Linked DNA regions of Homo sapiens. The protein of the gene in region 1 purifies or fractionates together with the protein of each later gene. This does not show direct contact. Each region holds a gene or a part of one and is shown on either strand. Other genes may lie near its edges.

Evidence for each region.
Region 2: the proteins of NSMCE1 (region 1) and TCHH purify together in Homo sapiens (affinity purification with mass spectrometry; one large-scale study listed by BioGRID and IntAct). This does not show direct contact.
Region 3: the proteins of NSMCE1 (region 1) and SIMC1 purify together in Homo sapiens (affinity purification with mass spectrometry; 3 studies listed by BioGRID and IntAct, with this or other methods). This does not show direct contact.

What each region holds. Positions count from the first base shown.
Region 1 is NC_000016.10:27,258,684-27,262,331, reverse strand, and holds part of NSMCE1 (non-structural maintenance of chromosomes element 1 homolog), read left to right. Parts: intron 1-3,648. UniProt on the Homo sapiens protein: RING-type zinc finger-containing E3 ubiquitin ligase that assembles with melanoma antigen protein (MAGE) to catalyze the direct transfer of ubiquitin from E2 ubiquitin-conjugating enzyme to a specific substrate.
Region 2 is NC_000001.11:152,112,592-152,116,776, forward strand, and holds the start of TCHH (trichohyalin), read right to left. Parts: upstream 2,854-4,185; 5' UTR 2,800-2,853; intron 1,521-2,799; 5' UTR 1,490-1,520; coding exon 1,352-1,489; intron 488-1,351; coding exon 1-487. UniProt on the Homo sapiens protein: Intermediate filament-associated protein that associates in regular arrays with keratin intermediate filaments (KIF) of the inner root sheath cells of the hair follicle and the granular layer of the epidermis.
Region 3 is NC_000005.10:176,237,017-176,241,248, reverse strand, and holds the start of SIMC1 (SUMO-interacting motif-containing protein 1), read right to left. Parts: upstream 2,826-4,232; 5' UTR 2,741-2,825; coding exon 2,612-2,740; intron 1-2,611.

The DNA.
Region 1 (3,648 bases):
ATGCCTCCAGCTTTGTTCTTTTTGCTTAGGATTGCTTTCGCTATTCAGGCTCTGTTTTGGTTCCATGTGATTTTTTTTTTTTTTTTTTGAGATGAAGTCTCACTCTGTTGCTCAGGCTGGAGTGCAATGGCGTGATCTTGGCTCACTGCAACCCCCGCCTCCCAGGTTCAAGCGATTCTCCTGCCTCAGCTTCCTGAGTAGCTGGGATTACAGGCGCGTGCCACCCCGCCCAACCAATTTTTGTATTTTTGGTAGCGACAGAGTTTCATCATGTTGGCCAGGCTAGCCTCTTAACTCCTGACCTCAGGTGATCTGCCCGCCTTGGCCTCCCAAAGTGCTGGGATTACAGGCATGAGCCACCGCGCTCGGCCCTGTGTGAATTTTAAAATGCTTTTTCCTTTATTAATGTGGTGACTCACATTGATTGATTTTTAGATGTGAAACCATTGCTGGAATAAACCTAAGTGATGATATGTCATTCCTTTTACATATCTGGATTAAGTTTGTTAGCATTTTGCTTAGGACATACTGTAGCTGTGTTCATGAAAGATACTGGCTTGTAATTTTCCTTTCTTTTGACATCCTTGTTAGGTTTCAGGGCCAAATTAGGTTAGCCTTGTCAGATGGGTTGGGGAGGGTTTGCTTTTTTTCTGGCGCTGCGATTGTGTAACATTTGAAATTATTTGTTTTTAGACTATTTGGTAGAACTTCTTGATAAAGTCATTGGGACCTGAAGTTTTCTTTGTGAGAAGATGGATTTTCTATAAAATGTCATTAATGGTTATAGGAGTGTTTAGGTTTTCAGATAATTCATTCATTAGTTTTGAATAAATTTCCTATGACTTTTTACATAGTTAAATTTCAGATTATTATAAATTATTGATAATATTTTTAAGTATGTTAATTGCAGATATTTGTCTCATTTGCAGTTAATTTCCTTTTTTTTCAAATATTGTTTGTTTATAAGTTTTAGCTCTTGGAAAATCTTGTCAGAAGTTTTTCACTTTTATTATGTTTTTTCAAAGAATAGTTTTGGTTTTGTTGACCTTAGATATATGCTTATTTTCAGTCTTTATTAATTTCTGCCCTTTATTATTTTCTCATTTTACCTTTCTTTGGATTTAATTTGTAGTTCTTTTTATAGTTTCTTTTTTTTTTTTTTTTTGAGACGGAGTCTTGCTTTGTCACCCAGGCTGGAGTGCAATGGTGCCATCTCAGCTCGCTGCAACCTCTGCCTCCCATGTTCCAGCGATTCTCATGCCTCAGCCTCCCGAGTAGTTGGGACTATAGGCACGCACCACCATGCCTGGCTAATTTTTGTATTTTTAGTAGAGATGGGGTTTCACCATGTTAACCAGGCTGGTCTCCACCTCCTGACCTCAGGTGATTGACCTGCCTTGGCCTCTCAAAGTGCTAGGATTATAGGTGTGAGCCACCACGACCAGCCCCCGCAACCTTTTTTTTTTTTTTTTTGAGACAGGGTCTCACTCTGTTGCCCAGCCTGGAGTGCAGTGGTGTGATCACGGTTCACTGCAGCCTCGACCTCCCAGGCTCAAGCAATCTTCCCACCTCAGCCTCCTAAATAGCTGGGACTACGGAGGTGTGCCACTATGCCCAGCTAATTTTTGTGTTTTTTGTGGAGATGGGATTTTGCCATGTTGCTCAAGCTGGTTTTGAACTCCTGGGCTCACTGTGCCCAGCCTATAAGGAACTCTTATAATATAGAGGTAGATTTTATTCATTATTAATTTGATAAGGTTTTAAATCTGGTCTAACAGTCCTTGTCTTTAAGCTGGAACATTTAGTCTATTTTTATTCATTGTTATTACTAATCTAGTTGGATTATTTCTCCTGACTTACTTTGTTTTTTTGTGTTTGTTTTTCCTATCCTGGTTTTCCTTTCCATTATTTTTTCTCATTACATTATTCCCCTTTACTATTTGGAAATTATATACACTATTTGTTTTTTTAAAAGTTGTTACTCTAGAAATTGTAAAATGCAAGTGTAAAATTTATTCATGTCCAGCTTCTACTCCTGACCATCACAAGGCTATTAGAACACTAATCCCAGTGATTGCTCACCTCCCATTTATGTTATTATTTTTGTGTATTTAGTTTTTTAAAAACCTCATTCTTTTTACTGTGGTATTAAAAACTTTTTTTTAAAGATAGAAGCATTTCTTCTGATTTTTACTGTTTTATACAGTTAACTTGGATTTAACCACATATTTACCAACTTTTTTTGCTCTTTATTCTACCCTGCATTTTAGACCTTCCAACTTGTATCCCTTTCTTTCTTCCTGAACTATATGCTTTGGAATTTCCTTTAGGGAGCACCTGCTGGTCACTTGCTCTTTCAGTTTTTTGTTGTTTGGAAATGTTTTTGTCTTATCCTCAGTCTTCAGCTCGTTATAGAATTCTCTGTTGAGACACCCGCTCCCAGCATAGAAGATATGTTTCCACTGTGACCGGCTTCCATTGTTGCCATTGTGATGGCAGCCGGCAGTCTACTTGTTGCTCTTTAGAAGTCATCTGACTTTTTCTTTGATTGTGTTTAATCTCTGGTATTGTGTGGTTTTATTAGGATGAGCCTAGGTGGATATTTTAGAGTTTATTCTGCTTGAGATTTGATGGGATCACAATGACAGTGATTCGTATCATTTGTCCCCACTGCCAAGCCTCGGTGATACCTCATCCCCTTTTGTAGGATCCCTTCAGGAGACTGCTTTCTGGACTCTTTGCCTCCCATTTCTTTCCTCTACACCTCCATGATGCCAAAGAGGATAATCTCCCTAAAACACAGCTAGGCAACACCATGTTCCTGCTTCAAGACCCTTAGTTTGTAGAGATCCTTCATTTGCAGGATAGAAGTCCATTGTTTTTAGCCTAGCACATTCTAACCCTGTGCCCAGAACAACCACTGGCAAATACGGGGGTGCTAAGTACATCGACATGGAATGGCCCTAGTGATAGGAAATAAAGTTGATGACAGGCTGGATTTGAGGTTTAAGGAGAGGAGGACCAGAGTTCGATGCTCAGGTGTGTGGTATGATTGTGTGGACTGCACCGTCCACACCAGATGATTTGCAAAGAGAAGGACTTGGGAGAGGAAAGGGGCTAAGGAGGTGGAAGGAGAGGATGAGTCTAACGTAGGCTTTGTTGAGGTGCAGATTTGGTGAGATGGAGGATATTTTTCTAGCAGGCAGTTGGAGGGACTGGTTATGAGATGGCGCATTTTCCCAGCCCTGAGGTCCAGTTGAGGATGCTGTTAAAGAACAGCACTGGCTGGGCGTGGTGGCTCACACTGTAATCCCACCACTTTGGGAGGCTGAGGCAGGTGGATCGCCTGAGGTCAGGAGTTCGAGGCCAGCCTGGCCAACATGGTGAAACCCGTCTCTACTAAAAATACGAAAATTAGTCAGGCACGGTGGTGGGCGCCTGTAGTTCCAGCTACTTGGGAGGCTGAGCCAGGAGAATCACTGGAACCCGGGAGGCAGAGGTTGTAGTGAGCCGAGATCACGCCACTGCACTCCAGCCTGGGCAACAGAGTGAGACTCCATCTCAGAAAAAAAAGAAAAAAAAAAGAACAAAAGAGCAGTAATTAGCAGTCTTGTGGATCTCTTATGTGCCAGGTGCTTGGCAAGCCTT
Region 2 (4,185 bases), on another chromosome or scaffold:
GCTCTTCGTCTGGAAACTCCTCAGTTTCGTGACCTTTGCAACTCTGCAGCTGCTCTTCCTCTGCACGGCGCTCTTCCCGTTCTTGCCATTCTTGCCTTTGCCGCCACAGCTCCTCGTCGCGGCGCTGCCTGTCGCGCTGTTCAAGTCGCTCTTGTTTCTCACTTTGCTCCTCTCCCTCAGCTAGCTCCCTCTCCTGTTCCTGCCTCTTCTGCCTGCGTCGTTGCCCAGGTTCTTCTTCCAGTTGTCTGTCCCGGGGCTCGAATCTCCTTTGGTCTTCTTCTTGCCTGCGATCTTGTAACAGGCTCTCCTTTCCGTCACACCGGGCTCGCTTCTCCTCATCCAGTCCCGTGGCCTGGCCGAGAGCATAGTAACAAGCTTGAGCCACTTTGAAAATAAATAGGAGGAATTCGTTGAAATCGACACGCCCATTACTGTCAAGATCCAGAAGTTCCAGGATCAGATCTACCGTCTTAGGGTCATGTGGTCTCTATAAAAATGGTGAAAACAAAAATTTTACAATGCACTATTTACAGGTGGTAAAATTATATTCACACATGATATATTTTATGCTATGCTGACATTCAAGAGACATTCAGAGCAATTAGAAAAATGTCCAGTGTGTATCAAGTTTTGTCCCCATGTAAAATGTGAACCCTCACTTTAAAGCATATATTCGTTTGAAATTTTTACATCTCGTAATTTAGTGCTGATCAAACCTAAGGAAGCAGGAAGAGAGACACAAAGTAGAATAGCAGGTAAGCCTACGCACCTTAGAGGCAGAGCCTGAGGTGAAGATTCAAAACAGCATCGTGAACTTGTGTGTAAAATTAACAAAGCTACTCAACATCAAGAAAGAATAACACAAGTTCGCTTTAATTGAGAAAGAATGAACTCATCCTTGAGAGAGATACAATAGAAATTTATGAGGATTTGCAGTAGCCATTTCTGTCTGAAGCAGCCAGTATTCTTGATTTGGTTTCTATTCCATATTAGAAAACAGAACAAAACATTTACGGGTAGCACCATTTTAATAGAGATCAGGCTGATCTCAGTTTTGAAATTTGGAAACAAATTTAAGTTCCTCCAAGTCTAGTGTGATTTGACATCTTTTGTGGTAATGTCCCATGAAGAGCTCATTCACATGGCCATGCCATCAAGTACATGAAATACTTTATTATTCAGACTACAATGTCAAGTAAGTACCTTTTGACTCAGAAATGAATGGGGGATGTAGTGTAGACCTGTTGTGGTGTAAAATGAATATAAAACCACCATTCCTTGCTCTGGTCTCCTCTGAGAATAAATCTCATAGCCTCAAGTCAATAGATCTCATTTTCTTGTTAGTTCTTACCCGAAGCACAGCTCCAAATTCCCTTTCAAGGAGGTTCTTCAGGTCTTTCTTAGTTAATGCTGCTCCATCACAATCATGAGAGACATACTGATTGAAAATTTCAGTGATGTCACAGATGCTTCTCAGAAGTGGAGACATTTTTTTTTCTTTCCTTCAAGTTCAAGTAAACCTAGAACAATAAAATAAGATCCAGAATCAAAATCCCGTTTCTGCTTTTGGGAAGGCTTCATTCACACTATTTCAGGCAGATCCCTAAATAATTTGAATTTATAGCGGTAATTTCAACCTGGACTTTCAGAGCACTTTAATATTTGAATATTGTATCAGAAAGAGAAAGAGCGATCCTGAGAAATTCCAAGCCAGGGAATCATCTTCAGACTATCCTGTTGTCAGCTTTTGATTGTCCACCCAATGTGGATTATCTATGCCCTTTTCTTCTGTCTTTCTTCCAGCTCTCCACCGTATTTCAGAGTAGAAAATTAAGAGAAGAGTGCAGAAATTAAAATTTTATATATGTCTACACACCTTCCTTTAAAGTTGAGCGAAGAGGACAGGTAAAAGCCAAAAGGTGAAGGAAGACTTGAGAGTATCTTAAAGTGGATAGAGGCCATGTCAGCAAAACAGTTGGTAGAAAATAGAACAATGAAAAGGGAATATGAATGATTCCTCAACATTACAGTCCATAAAGGATTTAGGAACTCTTATAGAATATAATTTGTAAGTCAGCAATTCTAAGATTAAATAGTACTTCTTCCTAGTCAAAAGATGGCATTGTAACATTCAGATACACAAATGCAGAAAACAGAGACTGTATATTACCTGCCTCAACTCAGATATAGTAAGATATTCGGATATTGAAGTATTGAAAGCTTCTGAGAGGTCCTTTCTAAACCAAACGGAATCCAGAAAACTGTGAATGATATTGGTTTTGTTAAACCCAAATGCATCATTGGAATCTTGGCTTTTTATAAAACATTAGCCAGCAGTAGATCAATGTTATAAGAATACATGGAATGGCTTTGCTGGTGGGATAAGTGTAGTCGTTCATCTAGCTGACTTCTTTATGTACTTCTCAACTCCAGTACCTTAAATGCTGTGACTGTATGAAGATGGCCCATATTAGGTAGAACCAATGTAAAAGAGAACAGAAGGCTGGCAAACTTTTGAGATAGCAGTTTTTAGGAAGATGAACCCTATCAGAGCCACACATGATCATCCTTGATGTGCAGAAGTATAGAGTTCAGAGCCCAAGGAGAAGGGTCATGCTTCAGTTCAAGTGATGGCTCCAACCATAAGAAGATGGGATAGAGTTAGTGATAGTTTATTTATCCCTGCAAAATACTGATACCTTCTGGCACATGGAACCTCCCCCCATATCCCAACATCTGAAATAGCTATAAAAATGGAGAATCATAAAGAAGACCACGATCCCACAGAATGGGACTTACCCACTTCACCAGAGGAAGAAGTCGACAGTGCTTGCTGACACCACAGGCAAGTGTACTGGGTAACTGGGAGCTGGGCCTTTTATAGGGGTTTTAATTGTGCCCTGGAAAGCAACTTGGGAAGGAGACACCCACTCTGTGGGATGGCCTGATTCATTCCTAACCAAGCCCAGCTCCACCTCTGTCTCCACAAATGGCTTGTTTATCTCACTATTTGCTCACGTAGCTATTTGGCACGAGGTTCACAGACCTTGCCTCCTGACAGTCAGGGTACCAGCCCCACCTAACATGGGAGGGTAGAATATTTGGCAGAATCTCCAATTTTCTTAAATTGTTAAAAGTAAATTAAATAATAAAACAAAGGTATTAAATGTTCACAATCTTAATTGATTATTACTTCATTACAAAGGAGTAAACTCTAAGCCATTTGCTTTATAAAAGATACAATCTCTAGTTTGGGATTAAGCAGAAACTTTGAAATAAAGTGATGAAAACCAATTAATTTCTCCATGGGATGTGACAGTCCATGGTGAGCTGCTCATAAGCCCTGCCAGAAGCAGTTGCTTCAATTCTAGGGCAATGAGAGAGCTGTAAAGAATTGGTTAGTTTCTTCTCTAAAAATGCAGGTGGGAAAAATTTTTACATTTGTCTCCCGGGTCTTATGATGGTTTTCCTACAGATTGGGGACTGCCTCCTCAGTAAAGTTTGGAAGGGTACCTTGGAAATATATTTTTATTAAACCGTTCATAAGAAAACTTGAAATCTGTGAAATTTCATTCTTAGAGACATTAAACCTAAATGAAGTTTGTTCATTAGTTTTCTCATTAGCATATTGATGCCCCTGGGGAAAAAGAGCTGGTGTAATGTATTATTGTAGATATAATCATCCTGCTCAGCCTAAGTTACTAATGATTATGACACCTAAACACTTGAGTCTGCTTCTCCTGGAAGTACATTGAGGTAATTGGTCATTCTAGCCCATTATATCCATCAGGGCTTTCTCAATCTGGTTGATCATTTGCAAATTTCAGTGCTGTTTTATTGTAAGGAATTGGATTTTATCCATGGTTGTCAGTGACTTCCTTCCTTACATTTCAGACTATATGAAACTTTGGTTCATAATTTATGAAGACTATTAAATGATTCAATGGCTTCTCTGCACTTTTGTCTCCTCCTTTGTCCAACAGAGGCAAGTGTTGGTTTTCTGAATTTTGAGGCAACTGAACGTCCTTCAATGGCATGAGTGAAAATTTGGAATCTAAATCTTGATGGCTATTTCTTTATGTGCAGATTGGTCTAAATGATAATGGAGTTGAACTCTATTTGCCCCCTCACTTGCTGCCATCCTAGATGTGGGGTACAGAGGAAGGTAGAAGTGACAGGGAATGG
Region 3 (4,232 bases), on another chromosome or scaffold:
AAATTGTATAATTAGATCAACAAAATTAACCATCTGAAAATGTTCTGTTTTTATAAGTAAAAAAACGAAAAACAAAAAATCCCAAACGAAAAAGCCATGATAAACACAGAAACACACCTCATCGACTCAGTGAAGACTAAAGCCCAGGTTAAGAATCAAGAGTTCAGAAATGTCAACTTCAGCATTAGACATGGCTTTCTCAAGTTCAAGCAAGTTACTTCCCCTTAGTCAATATCTATTAAAAAAAAAAAAAAAAGATGTAAAAGTTGCTTCTTTTATTTCATTGCCTGTGAAGCTCAAGAGGGACAGGCCTGGGCTTAGAAACAACACAAAAAGTGGCAAAAGCTATCATTTATATGAGATCCTTTCCTTGCATTTGTCTCATTAAAAATTTAAAACCATCCTGCTAGGTAGGCATTAATGTTCTCAGGCTCAAAAGCTGAGAGTTGACAGAACTTTCCAAAACTCAAATAGTTGCTATGCTGGAGATATTGATTCAGAAGTCTCTCTGACCTCAGAGCCTTCAGGAAAAGCTACAAAGAAAAGGGCACTTTTAGACTTTATAACCTTGCAAGTCTCTCAATGCCTCTGATCTTTTACATGGTTATCATACCACTCTTATCTAATTTGCAAAAAAGATAAAACGAGAATAAGCTTGGAGCTTTTAGAGAGCTGGAATAAATATCTGGAGAAGCACGATTTAAATTGGGTACTGCTCTCTGGAACTTGCCCCTCATTTCGATTCAACTCAAAGGCTCAAGATCAAAATGCTTGCTTGAGTGGTCACAAGTGAGGGAAACAGTGAGAGACTACGCCCATGTACGTATGTGAAAGACCACAAAAGACTGAGATAAGCATGGCATCTGACCACTGAAGAAGGAAGCTGGACCAGAATGAGGGAAAATGGACAACACTTGGGAGGAAAGGAAGCAAGTGGGAAGGACAAAGTTAAACAGGTAGTGAGAGAAGAGGCTATAGGAATGAGGAGGAACTAGGAGGAAAGAAGTATTTTTTCCCTTCCACCTTTTTTCTCTCTCTACTCTTTTCCTTGATGATCTCAGTCACTATTAGGCCTTCAATACTCCTTTCTGTTTGCATGATTGCCAAATATCTCCATTCTTGCCTTTTCTCCAACTACTGAGCTGGCCACATCCATCTACATTTCCTATTAACACTGTAAATCCAACAGGTCCAACCTGAATTCAGCATCTCCTTCATCTCAAGCCTGCTGCTACTTTTATATGCACTTCTCTTATACTTATCAAACATCCATCTAAACCATTCTCTCTCCCCATATTCTTTCAATCGTTCCTTCATCCAACAAATACTTATTGTGCATCTATTATGTCCGATACATTCAGCCACAGCCCTAGATATATCCATTCACTCATGAAGTCGGGTCATTTCTATCTTGGAAATCTCTTCTCTCACTACCTCATGAGCTGCCTAACTCAACTAAATTTGTCTCTAAGACGTCCTGAGAAACCCTCTTGCTTGAAAAATAATATATATTAACTAGTTTTGCATGCTATTCATTCTATAGTGATCATCTAGCACTTGGCACTGTACCTCGGGCACAGAAGGGGTTCCCAATGGAGGTTTAGGGACTGTAAACCAGCTAGAAAGGGAACAGGGGCAGCAGAAGCTAGGAAACGTCTTGAACGAGTATTTGCATAGGAAGCATGGTAAACTGTATGATCTATACACATAACATCAGCTTGATAATCCTTGTGTTTCCGGGGGATGGCTCTGGGAGGCTGGGGAGATCGTTGGAAGCCTTCTGAGAGAAAGCTCCACCTCCCACCGCTTGAGTAGGTCCTCAACAACCACCTGATGATGTATCACCTTCTGAGGGGACCATGGATATTGTGTTCGCCGTTGTATCCCCGGCCCCTACAACATCTGGCTCATAGTAGGGATTCAATAAACATCGATGCAGGATTCTCGAAAGGCAGATAATTCACCACCTCATGAACGACAAAGACGAAGGGGTTCTGAGGGAAACAGAAATAGCGCGCGAGGTTTCCTTCCCTATTCCTTCAGGGCTTGGTACAGGGTAAGTGCTGAGGAAATAAATCGCCCTCCTGTACAACTCCAAAATCGGGCCCCTCGCTCTGCAGTCAGGCCCTGGAGCGCGGCCACCATCTGGCCCAGGCCCGCGCTTCCCTCCCTCCCAGCCTGGGCTCCTGTTACCTCCCTGCACACATCTGTGTCCACCACAGGCCGAAGAATTACGCGCTCCCGCTTTCCTGCATCGGCCCGGCCAGTACACCCGAGCCCCCACGTCCCGCCGAGGCTCCGAGGACGCCCGCGGCCCCGGCCTGAGACCCCAGCCCCTGCAGCAGGCGCGCCAGGAGCTCGTCCATGTGCTCGGCCGCTTTCCAGCCGCAGTCCTCTCGGGCTTCAGCGCTGAGCCTGGGAGGCCCGGCCTCCCCGGTCCCTGCCCTGGCCCCTGCCCCGGCCCGCCGCGCTCCCCGGGGCCCGAGAGGCCCGGAAGGAGGCAAGGCGGGAAGTGGCTGCAGCTGTGAGGCGCCAGGGGCGGGAAGCGGGCGGCGGGCCCAGCCGAGGGTCGCGAAGACGCGCGCCCCCAAACGAGGCGACGCTCACTCACCACGGTCCGGCGGGGCAGCGCGCCGGAGGTTCGCGACAGGGCCCGGCGCGGCCTCCGCGACCGGCCCGGGCGGGCGCCCCCGGAGCTCTCAGAGCCGCTGTCGTCCGAGATCACGATGAAATCCTCCATGGCTGCGGGCCCCGACCGAAGACCCAGGCAGTGGCGGCGGCGGCGACGACTTCGGTTCCTGCTTCTGAGGTGGCGGCGGCGGGGCGGCGGCAGCGGCGGCGGCTACAACCCGGGCCACCGCCACGCCGGCCCCGCCCCGAGCCCCGCCCCGCCGGGCCGCCAAGCCCCGCCCACCGGCGGCGGGCGGCTGGGGTCAGGGCCGGGGTCGCTGTGCTTCGTGGCGGCGCGGGTCCTCCGTTTCCCAGGAGGAAAAAAAAAAAGAAAAATGGAGTCGCAGCCGGCTTCGGCAGGTGTTGGGGCCAGGCGTGCGAGACGCCGAGGCCGCGGGGACTTCCCCACCTGCTTCCAACCGACGAAAGCGTGAAGTGAGGCGCGCCCAGTCCCACCCTGCCCAGGTGTGAAGCGCCTCCCGGACTGAGAGGGCCTTGACTGAGGGGCAGGGAGAGAGGTCCTGGCCCCCGAGTGACCGAGGGTAGGTGACCTGGCTTCTGGCCGAGCTAAGGGAGAGAGAGAGACCCCACTTTTTGGTGCACACGCCCATGTGTATCTGTAGGATAAATGCCTAAAAGCGGACTTATTGGGGCAAAGGCCATGTTTTTGTAGTTTTGATAAATGATGCCAAATTACCCTCCTAAATTGTACCAGTTTGCGATTTCACCAACAATATGTGTCTCTCAGGAGTTTAAACTGAGATTTAGAGCAGGGGTGTCCAATCTTTTGGCTTCCCCAGGAAGAAGAATTGTGTTGGGCCATACATAAAATACACTAATGATAGCTGATGACCTAAAGGAAAAGAGTTGCGAAAAAAAAAATCTCTTAATGTTAAACAGGGAGTTAAACAAGTTTGACGTAGACAGTTGTTCAGTTGGTATCAGGATCAGAAGCTGAAAAGGTGCACAAAAGAAGCCATGAAGTAGCAGAGGCCATGAATAATTAGATGTTGTGAATAAGCAGAAGTTATAAAGGTGAAAAAGGTTGTCCCCAGTAGAGGAATCGGTGGGTAGTTGGCTGGTTGGTTGGTTTTAGGGCAGGACCATTAAAATCAAGATAGGACCTATTGGTACACTAAATGTGGGGTATTGACAAAATCCTGCTGCTCAGGCTCCAGAAGTTTTGCAAAATATGTTAACAGATCCAAAGAATAATGTGTTTAATAGGAGGGGAATTTGTTCCTAAAGGAATGGTTATCAGGTGCTCTCCAAGCACTGTCTAATGCAGTGTTTTTCACACTTTGGTGAGCATCAGAATCCCCTAGAGTGTTTGTTAAGACAGATTGCGGCCGGGTGCGGCGGCTCACGCCTGTAATCTCAGCACTCTGGGAGGCCGAGGCGGGTGGATCACTTGAGGTCAGGAGTTCGAGACCAGCCTGGCCCACCTCGTCTCTACTAAAAATACAAAAATTAGCTGGGCATGGTGGCAGGCGCCTGTAATCCCAGCTACTTGGGAAGCTGAGGCAGGAGAATTGCTTGAATCTGGGAGGCGGAGGTTGCAG